Linked DNA regions of Homo sapiens: all the other regions are linked to region 1. Evidence: fine-mapped expression QTL. A gene starts in region 1. Each other region holds a variant in brackets. All regions are shown on one strand. Distances are from middle to middle.

What was found.
Region 2: its variant is fine-mapped to the expression of LINC01819 in whole blood (INTERVAL, PIP 0.98).
Region 3: its variant is fine-mapped to the expression of LINC01819 in whole blood (INTERVAL, PIP 0.98).

Annotation. Positions count from the first base shown.
Region 1 is chr2:43,038,397-43,041,156 of GRCh38, reverse strand. It overlaps LINC01819 (long intergenic non-protein coding RNA 1819), which reads left to right and starts at 1,614. Exons shown (of 6, transcript NR_110585.1): 1 at 1,614-2,037. RefSeq lists an enhancer at 1-154.
Region 2 is chr2:43,089,713-43,092,472 of GRCh38, reverse strand. The region is part of intron 2 of LOC107985876; the gene reads left to right. It also overlaps the pseudogene RNU6-242P. Among named protein-coding and RNA genes, the nearest start is that of LINC02580, 11 kb to the left of the region's middle. The variant T/C (reference allele first, on the strand shown) is at 1,205.
Region 3 is chr2:43,191,627-43,194,386 of GRCh38, reverse strand. No RefSeq gene overlaps it. Among named protein-coding and RNA genes, the nearest start is that of ZFP36L2, 34 kb to the left of the region's middle. RefSeq lists an enhancer at 1-377. The variant T/C (reference allele first, on the strand shown) is at 1,640.

The sequences.
Region 1 (2,760 bases):
AGCGCAGTGGTTCACGCCTGTAATCCCAGCACTTTGGGAGGCCAAGGTGGGAGGACAACTTGAAGTCAGGAGTTTGAGACCAGCCTGGCCGACATGGTGAAACCTTGTCTCTACTAAAAATACAAAAATTAGCCAGGCATGGCAGTGCATGCCTGTAATCCCAGCTACTCAGGAGGCTGAGTCAAAAGAATCGCTTGAACCCAGGAGGCGGACGTTGCAGTAAGCCAAGATTGAGCCACTGCACTCCAGCCTGGGTGACAGAGTGAGACTCCGTCTCACAAAAAAAAAAAAAAAAAAAGAAAAGAAAAAGAGAAAGAATGGGTCCTGATGAAGTTCCTAGGAGGCTCCCTCCTGCTGACAGAGCACAGCAGGAGTGTCCCCCTGGGCGATGGGGCCCAGCTTTCCCATGTCATTCATGGGCATCTGTTGCATCATGATATCTGTTGCAGAATCATCCCATAGTGGCTTCCAAGCAGGGCGTTGCAGCTGAGACTGGCCCTGGTCTCAGCATCTTCGGAGAGGCCCCAGATTGATAAGTGTCTTGTTCTGAGTCATGGCTCAAAGTCCCCATGACAGACAGGAATCCCTATCAGCATGGTAGATTTCATAAACCCCAAATTAGGGCATGAGATCTGAAAAAGAATCTGGGGGATTTGTGATAACATGTGAGGGCATACAAATAAGGACTCTTACTTGCTCAAGACTAACAAACTGCATGTCTTGACAAGAGTAGCCAAGATGAAATCAAATGTAGACAGGAGGGTTCTGAACACACGTGGGGTCACTGGTGTGGCTTGGCCCGGGACTACCCCTCTCCCCCTCATCACCCAAATCCACCAGAGCCTTCTAGAGGAAGCATTCTCCCCACTGGTGGCGTGGTGGGGCCAGGGCCTCGACAGGGACTGTTGTAATCATCCAGGTGGGAAATGACAGAGAGGTGGTGAGAGGCGGGTGGGCTCTGGAAGAAGTTGGAATCCTGCTGACAAGATGCTCCAGTGGTTTGGACATGGGTCTGAAAAACTCCAGGACGGCTATCCAAGGTTTCGGCCTCAGTGAATGAAGGGATGGGGTTGCCACTGACTGAGGAAGAGAATGTATTCTATTGCATATTTAATTAATTACTTTGATGTGAAAAGTCCAAATAACAACTATGTCTGGAACTGAGCAGGGCATCCGTGGGACCACCGCCCACAGGCACCCAGGGCTTATGGCACCACCCACCCCCGTCGTGGGAGGCCCCAGAGACCCCGGCAGAGAAAGAGGGAGGCTCACCCTCTTGCTGTGGTGTGTGTGGGAGGGGCAGTGTGAAAAGGTCTGGCCCACCTGAGTCCCCTGGGCTGGTAGGAGAACTGGGGCCGGGCAGGGGGTGGTGTTGGAACAGGAGGGGTGGTGTGTGAGCCTCTGTGGGCAAAGACCCACCGTGGCCCACAGAGGCTCTTTCTCCTCAGACCCGGTGTGCTGTTACCAGAGCCTTCTAGAGGAAGTGTTCTCCGAGCTGAGGGCGGCTCTTTGATTCTCCAGGCCACAAACCCCCGCAGCCCGGCCTGGCCAGAGGCGTGCCTGTGCATCCCGGCAAGTGAGCGCCCAGGGACTCTCGGCCAGAGAGGCTGTGAGGGTGGCTTTGTGAGGATGGCTTTGTGTGGCTGCACATTGCCCTTGGCCAAGCCCCGCTGCCAGGAGAGGCAGCTCGGCTGCCAAACCTCCTGAACCCAAGTTACCTGAGCAAGCAGCCCTATCCCCTCGCCTGCTTCTCACTGCCTCGCCTGCCTTGGGCCTGCCCGACCCAGGGGGTCACATGCCTTGTTCCCCATCAGTGGAGACCAGGGACAAGAAGACAGTTCTGTGGGAAGAGCCAGGAGGACCATTTGGGAAAATACAGGTTCCAGGTGTGTCTCCAGACCTTGAGAGTTGGTGTCTCCTGGGAAGAGGCCCTGATGAGATCTGGGGAGATTCGGATCTGATGAGATTCAGGAAGCCCTGGCCTCTCCGTACTTGAGGAGACGGGACACACAGGACAAGCTGCAGGCTGGTGAGCAGGTATGTTCTGCTTCTTTGAGGACAAGAGAACCCTGGATCCTTGAGGGCTCTCAAGGGGCATTTACAGGGTCTGAGCCTAAATCGAGGCATCAGGTCCCAGAGAGGGCGAGGGTGCGTGTGCTCAGACAACCCGAGGTCCCGCAGAGGCCACCAGAGCCCCCAAGGGGGGTCGGAGAGAGTCCACTTCCCGCCAGAGGTGCGATGTGGCCACATCACTGGGCACCTAGTCCTTCTTTCTGCCAGCCTCAGCCATATGATGAGCAACCAACGCCTAAAGCTTCCTGAGCTGGAGGCGGGGAGGCAGGACTGGGGAGATTGGAGCTGGAGTGGAGTGGGCCTGAGCTGGGGACGGTGGGGTTCCTGTGACCCCGCAGGGTGAATGCCTGAGCTGGTTGCTCTGGATATGTGACCTGCTCCTCCCTTCTGTAAACTCTTCACCCTGATCTGGAGAAGGTGATCCCCAAGGGCTAGGACCCACCCACCCAGAAATACACTAAATAAGTAAATGTGCTCTGTTCAGATTTTATCTAATCAGGATTCCAGAGCACAAGACAAATGGCCTCACGTCCGGCTGGGAGGTGTAATTCATTCTCCTGGGTGAGTCCAAAGCCTGGGGCAGAGTGGGGAGAGGAGGGGCGGGGTGATTTAGTGTAGTGGAACGTGCACTAAGGGTCTGGGAGGCCCTGAAGCTTGGAGTGCAGGGCCCAGCGCCAAGACCTCCAG
Region 2 (2,760 bases), 51 kb before region 1:
TATAACCTAGAAACGGAATGCTGCCATCACAGAACCTAAGTCATGTGGCTTTAGGACTGGGAGATGGGTAGAGATTGTAAGGACTTTGAGGATATTGTTGATGGAAGTCTGATAGTTCTCAAGGAAGTTGCTGGTGAGGGCTTAAAGGAAAGTGAGAAATTTTTATTAGAAGCAGGAGGAAAGGGGACAAACCCTTATTACGTGGTGGAAGAAAGTTAGTAACATTGTCACTTGAAGCTATGTGAGCAATAGAAAATGTGCCTAATGAAGGCTGGGCACGGTGGCTCACACCTCTAACCCCAGCACTTTGGGAGGCCGAGGTGGGCAGATCACATGAGGTCAGGAGTTCGAGACCAGCCTGGCCAACACGGAGAAATCCTGTCCCTACTAAAAATACAAAAATTAGCTGGGCTTGGTGGCTCATGCTTGTAATCCCAGCTACTCGGGAGGCCGAAGCTGCAGAATCGCTTGAGCCCAGAGGGCAGAGGTTGCAGTGAGCTGAGACTGTGCCACTGCCCTCCAGCCTGGGTGACAGAGTAAGACTCTGTCTCAAAAAAAAAAAGAAAAAAAAGAAAAATGAAAAAGAAAATATGCCTAATGAACTAATGGTTTGGGCTAAAACAATTTTTAAGCAGACTGTTGAAAATGCTAGTTGGATTAGAAAATGCTAGTTGGATTATTTTAGCTGTATATGATAAAGACAGAGAAAGATGAGTTAAAAGGAAGCTTTAACTTTCAAGCAAAATTTATAAAACATATACAAGAGCCAGGGGCTTGCTGGATTTGAAAATAAATCTGCTTTTCATTCTCAGCCTCCCAGATGGCAAAAGATTCTCAAAGTATGAAAGGGCTTCAGGACAAAGATAAAACCCAGAGTGGGACTATAAGAACCTTTGTTAAAATCTCAGAAATATCTAAGGCTTCATAAAATATTTTGAATAGACAAAGGCCCTCTAAGTATTTCAAGAGTGTGCCTCAGTGCTCGCTTCAGCAGCACGTATACTAAAATTGGAACAATACAGAAAAGATTAGCATGGCCCCTGTGCAAGGATGACATGCAAATTCATGAAGCACTTCATATTAAAATAAAAACAAATTAAAAATAAAATGAAAAAGAGTGTGCCTCACAGATCCTCTTCATTAAACAACAGGGCTTCTAAGTATCTTAAGTAAATCGTTTTACACCAGCCTCACATTGAGAATG[T/C]AGAGAATGTTTTCTTGATGAAATGTTTGGTTATAGCTTTTGACTAACAGAGTGAGCCCCAATAGGATTCATGGGAAACCCACACAGTTTTTAATAGAATTATTTTGTCAGAAGCACCACCAGCTTGGGCAAAAAGGGTCAGAATAGTGTGAAATGAAAAAAGGCTTTTGGACCCCCAAAATTCTATGGGAAGGAAACAAGCTGAAAACTACTCAGTTGGAAACACCAGGTGTATTGGTCTGTTTTCACACTGCTGATAAAGACATACCTGAGACTGGGCAATTTACAAAAGAAAGAAGTTTAATTGGACTTACAGTTCCACATGGCTGGGGAAGCCTCACAATCATGGCAGAAGGCAACGAGGAGCAAGTCACATTTTACGTGGATGGTGGCAGGCAAAGAGAAGATGAGCTTGTGCTTCTTTTTTTAAAACCATCAGATCTCGTGAGTCTTATTCACTATCACAAGAACAGCACGGGAAAGACTTGCCCCCATGATTCAATTACCTCCCACCAGGTCCCTCCCACAACACGTGGAAATTCAAGATGAGATTTGGGTGGGACATAGCCAAACCATATCACCAGCCATTTTTTATAGAGAAAGAAGGATGATTCAGAAGGTGGAACCAAGAATCTAGAGAACAGAGCCAAAAGCCACAAAGAATCATTCCCAGGCAGTAGAACTGAGCCCTAATCAAGAAATTGGCAACACAATATGAGCCTGAATGGATTTCAGAATTGCTATGGACCAGTCATGGCTCTGTGCCTCCTCTCCCCTCTCTTGAATAAGAGTGTTTATAGTGGCTACACTATGCCTATCTCATCATTGGATGTTCAGTGTGTAAGCAGCAGATAACTTTTTTTTTTTTTTTTTTTTTGACACAGTGTTTCACTCTTGTTGCCCAGGCTGGAGTGCAATGGTGTGATCTTGGCTTGCTGCAACCTCCGCCTCCTGGGTTCAAGCGATTCTTCTGTCTCAGCCTGCTGAGTAGCTGGGATTATAGGTGCCTGCCACCATGCCCAATTAATTTTTGTATTTTTAGTAGAGAGAGAGTTTCACCATGTTGGCTAGGCTGGTCTTGAACTCCTGACCTCAGGTGATCCAACTGCCTTGGCCTCCCAAAGTGCTGGGATTACAGGTGTGAGCCACTGCATGCGGTCCAGTAGCAGATAACTTGTCTCTTTAGTTCACAAGTCTCTGAATAAAGAGGAATAGTACTTAAGGAAATGTGCCTGAGGAATTACATCTGAGGAACTTCCTCCATACCTGAATGGTTGATATAATGGGATCCTAGACCTCTCTAGCCTAAATCTGATGCCATAATAGATGAGATTTTGGGGGATCTTTGCAAAGGAATGAGTATATTTTGTATGTGAAAGGAATGTAAATAATTTATGTCCAGAGGATAGACTATGGTGGTTTTAAATATGGCTCAGATTGTTGACCCATTTCCTATCAAGAAATGGAACTGTTTCTCCCTCCTGCTGTACCTGGGCAGGCCTTTTTAACTGCCTTAACAAATAGAATGAGGTAGAAGTGACACTGCATGGCTTCCA
Region 3 (2,760 bases), 150 kb before region 1:
GCCCCACAGGTGGTTAATATTTAATCTCCTCCTTAATCATTAACTCCCTGGCTGGCTGGGGAGGAACAGGGCTGTTGTCAAATCAGTAACCACAGGCCCAGGAACAATGTCCACAGATCTCATGGCCTCTCCCATTGCTGGCCGAGTGGGGTAACCCCTGGCCCTGGGGGCCAGGTGCATCTCCCTCCCACGGTGACCTTGGGCCATGGAGAGGGCTTGAAGAGGCCAATCCTCTCCGAGCCCCTGGATCGCCCTTTACCCTCCACCCTCTACTTACTGGTGGGGAGTGGTGGGAGGTGGTGTCCATTCACGCATGAGGGTTCTAGTCCCTACCCACTCCTTCCAGGCTGTGTGACCTTGGGCAACTCACGTAGCCTCCCTGAACCTCAGTTTCCTCATCTGTGCAATGAGGATAATTATTCGTGTCTTGGAGGATTGTCATGAGATTTGAATGAGAGGAGGGTATACAAGGAAGTACTTTCTAAGCTGACGATTGAGTTAGCAAACAAGTTAGAGAAAGTACAGATGGGAAGAGACAGAGAGCAAAGGGTAAAGAGGAAAGAAAACAGCTTGAGAGCTCTTGTTTCCATCCACCCAAATGCAGTTCCTTTCCTTGGAGTTTGTTTTAATTCATTCAAGGAGTGTTGATTGATAAGGCTGTGTCTCCCTAAGTGGGGCTTTAGGGGTAATTTAAAAAGGAGTCAACCTCACCCTCAGGGAGCAAGAGTGACCAGGCTCCAGGGCTGAACCCAGCAGTGTCTGGGATGAAGGTCAGCAGGTCAGTGGGATGGGCTGGAGGGTCAGAGCAGGCCTTAAGGCTGAAGCAGGGCGGGGAGAGGATCCTGAGGGATGATTAGGAGTTGCGTGTGGAGGTGTAGGGAGGACTGTGCGTGCAAGCTTGCACCTAGGGATGTTTGTGTCCTTGAATTCAAGCACATAAGCAGACTATCTGAACACAGCCTGTCGCGAGGGTACACATGAATCACCCACAAACTCAGAGTAGTCAGCCACCCACCCACAAACACACACACACAGATGCACACGGTCACCCCAGGGGCGTGTGGACACACCAGCACCTTGGGATGGCAAGGCCCTCCTCTTCCAGCCCCAGCCCTGAGGCTTTCTGGATAACTTAGCATATGTGTCCCCCAGTTTGTGTGCTTTCTGGGCCTGGCTGACACCCATCACAGGACTGAACACTTCTGGCGTTCCAAAGTCTTCAGGTACATCAAGAAGCCACGGTATCCTCTCAAAGCCACCAGGTCTCCAGCTGGGACCCAGTGAGTGTGGATGTGAGGGAGCTGTAGGCAGAGAGCTTGGAGCTGGTATGGAGCCCTGGACACATCGCTGCCTGGGACAGGAGACAGGGCAGCTGGACATTGCAAACCCTCCCTGACCACTCCCCAGCCTGTGGGAGCAGGTGGAGGCTGGCCTGGGGGCAGCAGCTGGCGCTTCTTGGAGGAGGTGGGCATGGAGCTGGCCTTTAGAATGGAAGGATTTGAGGGGCAGAGATAGGTCGCAGGGAGCTACTGGAGCCCCCAGGAGCCAAGCCCCCAGCCCTCCTCTGGGTGGTTCACTCACATGCCACACTTGGGCTGGGCCCAGCCTGCCAGAACCAAAAAGAAGCCAAGCAGTGACT[T/C]TTTTTTTCTTTTCTTTTTTTTTTGTGAGACAGAGTCTCACTCTGTTGCCCAGGCTGGAGTGCAGTGGCTCAATCTCAGCTTACTGCAACCTCTGCCTCTCAGGTTCAAGCGATTCTCCTGCCTTAGACTCCCAAGTAGGAGTAGCTGAGACTACAGATGCATGCCACCATGTCCAGCTAATTTTTGTATTTTCAGTAGAGATGGGGTTTCACCATATTGGCCAGGCTGGTCTTGAACTCCTGACCTTGTGAGCCGCCTGCCTTGGCCTCCAAAAGTGCTGGGATTACAGGGGTGAGCCACCTTGCTCAGCCCAGGCAGTGACTTTTGAGAAACTGGGCTGAGTGGTAATAAAAACAAAATTCTGTCCTTCCCCGTGCTGCCTCCTACAGGGGACTCTGAGGACTGGAGGTCTGGGGGAGGGGTCCAGCTCTGAGCTTTCTAAGCAAATACTAAGACTTCTCCTACAGGAAGCCAGTCCTGACCCATGGTCCCTGCCCCAAGGAGTTGCTAATCCAGTGGATGCCATGGATCCAAACTGCCAGAGCCTGAATCCTGCCTTGATCTGTTTCTGGCTGTGTGACCTTGGGTCTGTTACCCGACCTCTCTGTGCCTCTGTTTTTTAATCTAGAACCTGGAGGTGATAATAGTGGAGTGAATTTGCTGCTTGTGGTTGCTGTGAGGGTTAGATGAGACCCAGGGCTCAGCACAGTGCCTGGCATATAGTAAGTGCTACAGCCATTTGAAGGAGAATGTGTTTTTGACTGCCATCTTTAGGGAAGCTTCCTGGAGGAGGAGACATATAAGCAGGCCCCTGAAGGACCAGCAGGATCCCCAGAGATCCAGAGGGAGGGAAGGTACCACTTCCCTGCGGAGGGGCCAGGGCGAGTGTGGGCAGGAAAGAACGTGGCATAGTTGGGGTCACCAGGAGCCTGTGAGGCCACAGCCCCTGCTTGGAGGACGGAAGTGAGGGTGATGATCAGGGTGGGGAGTGGTCAGGGAGGGTTTGCAATGTCCAGCTGTCCTGGAGAGGGGAACGCTTGGAGGCTTGTGAGGGGAGCCCCAGGATTGCTCAGGCTGAGCTTGGCAGCAAAGAGCAGGCCCTGTTGGAGGAAGAAACCCA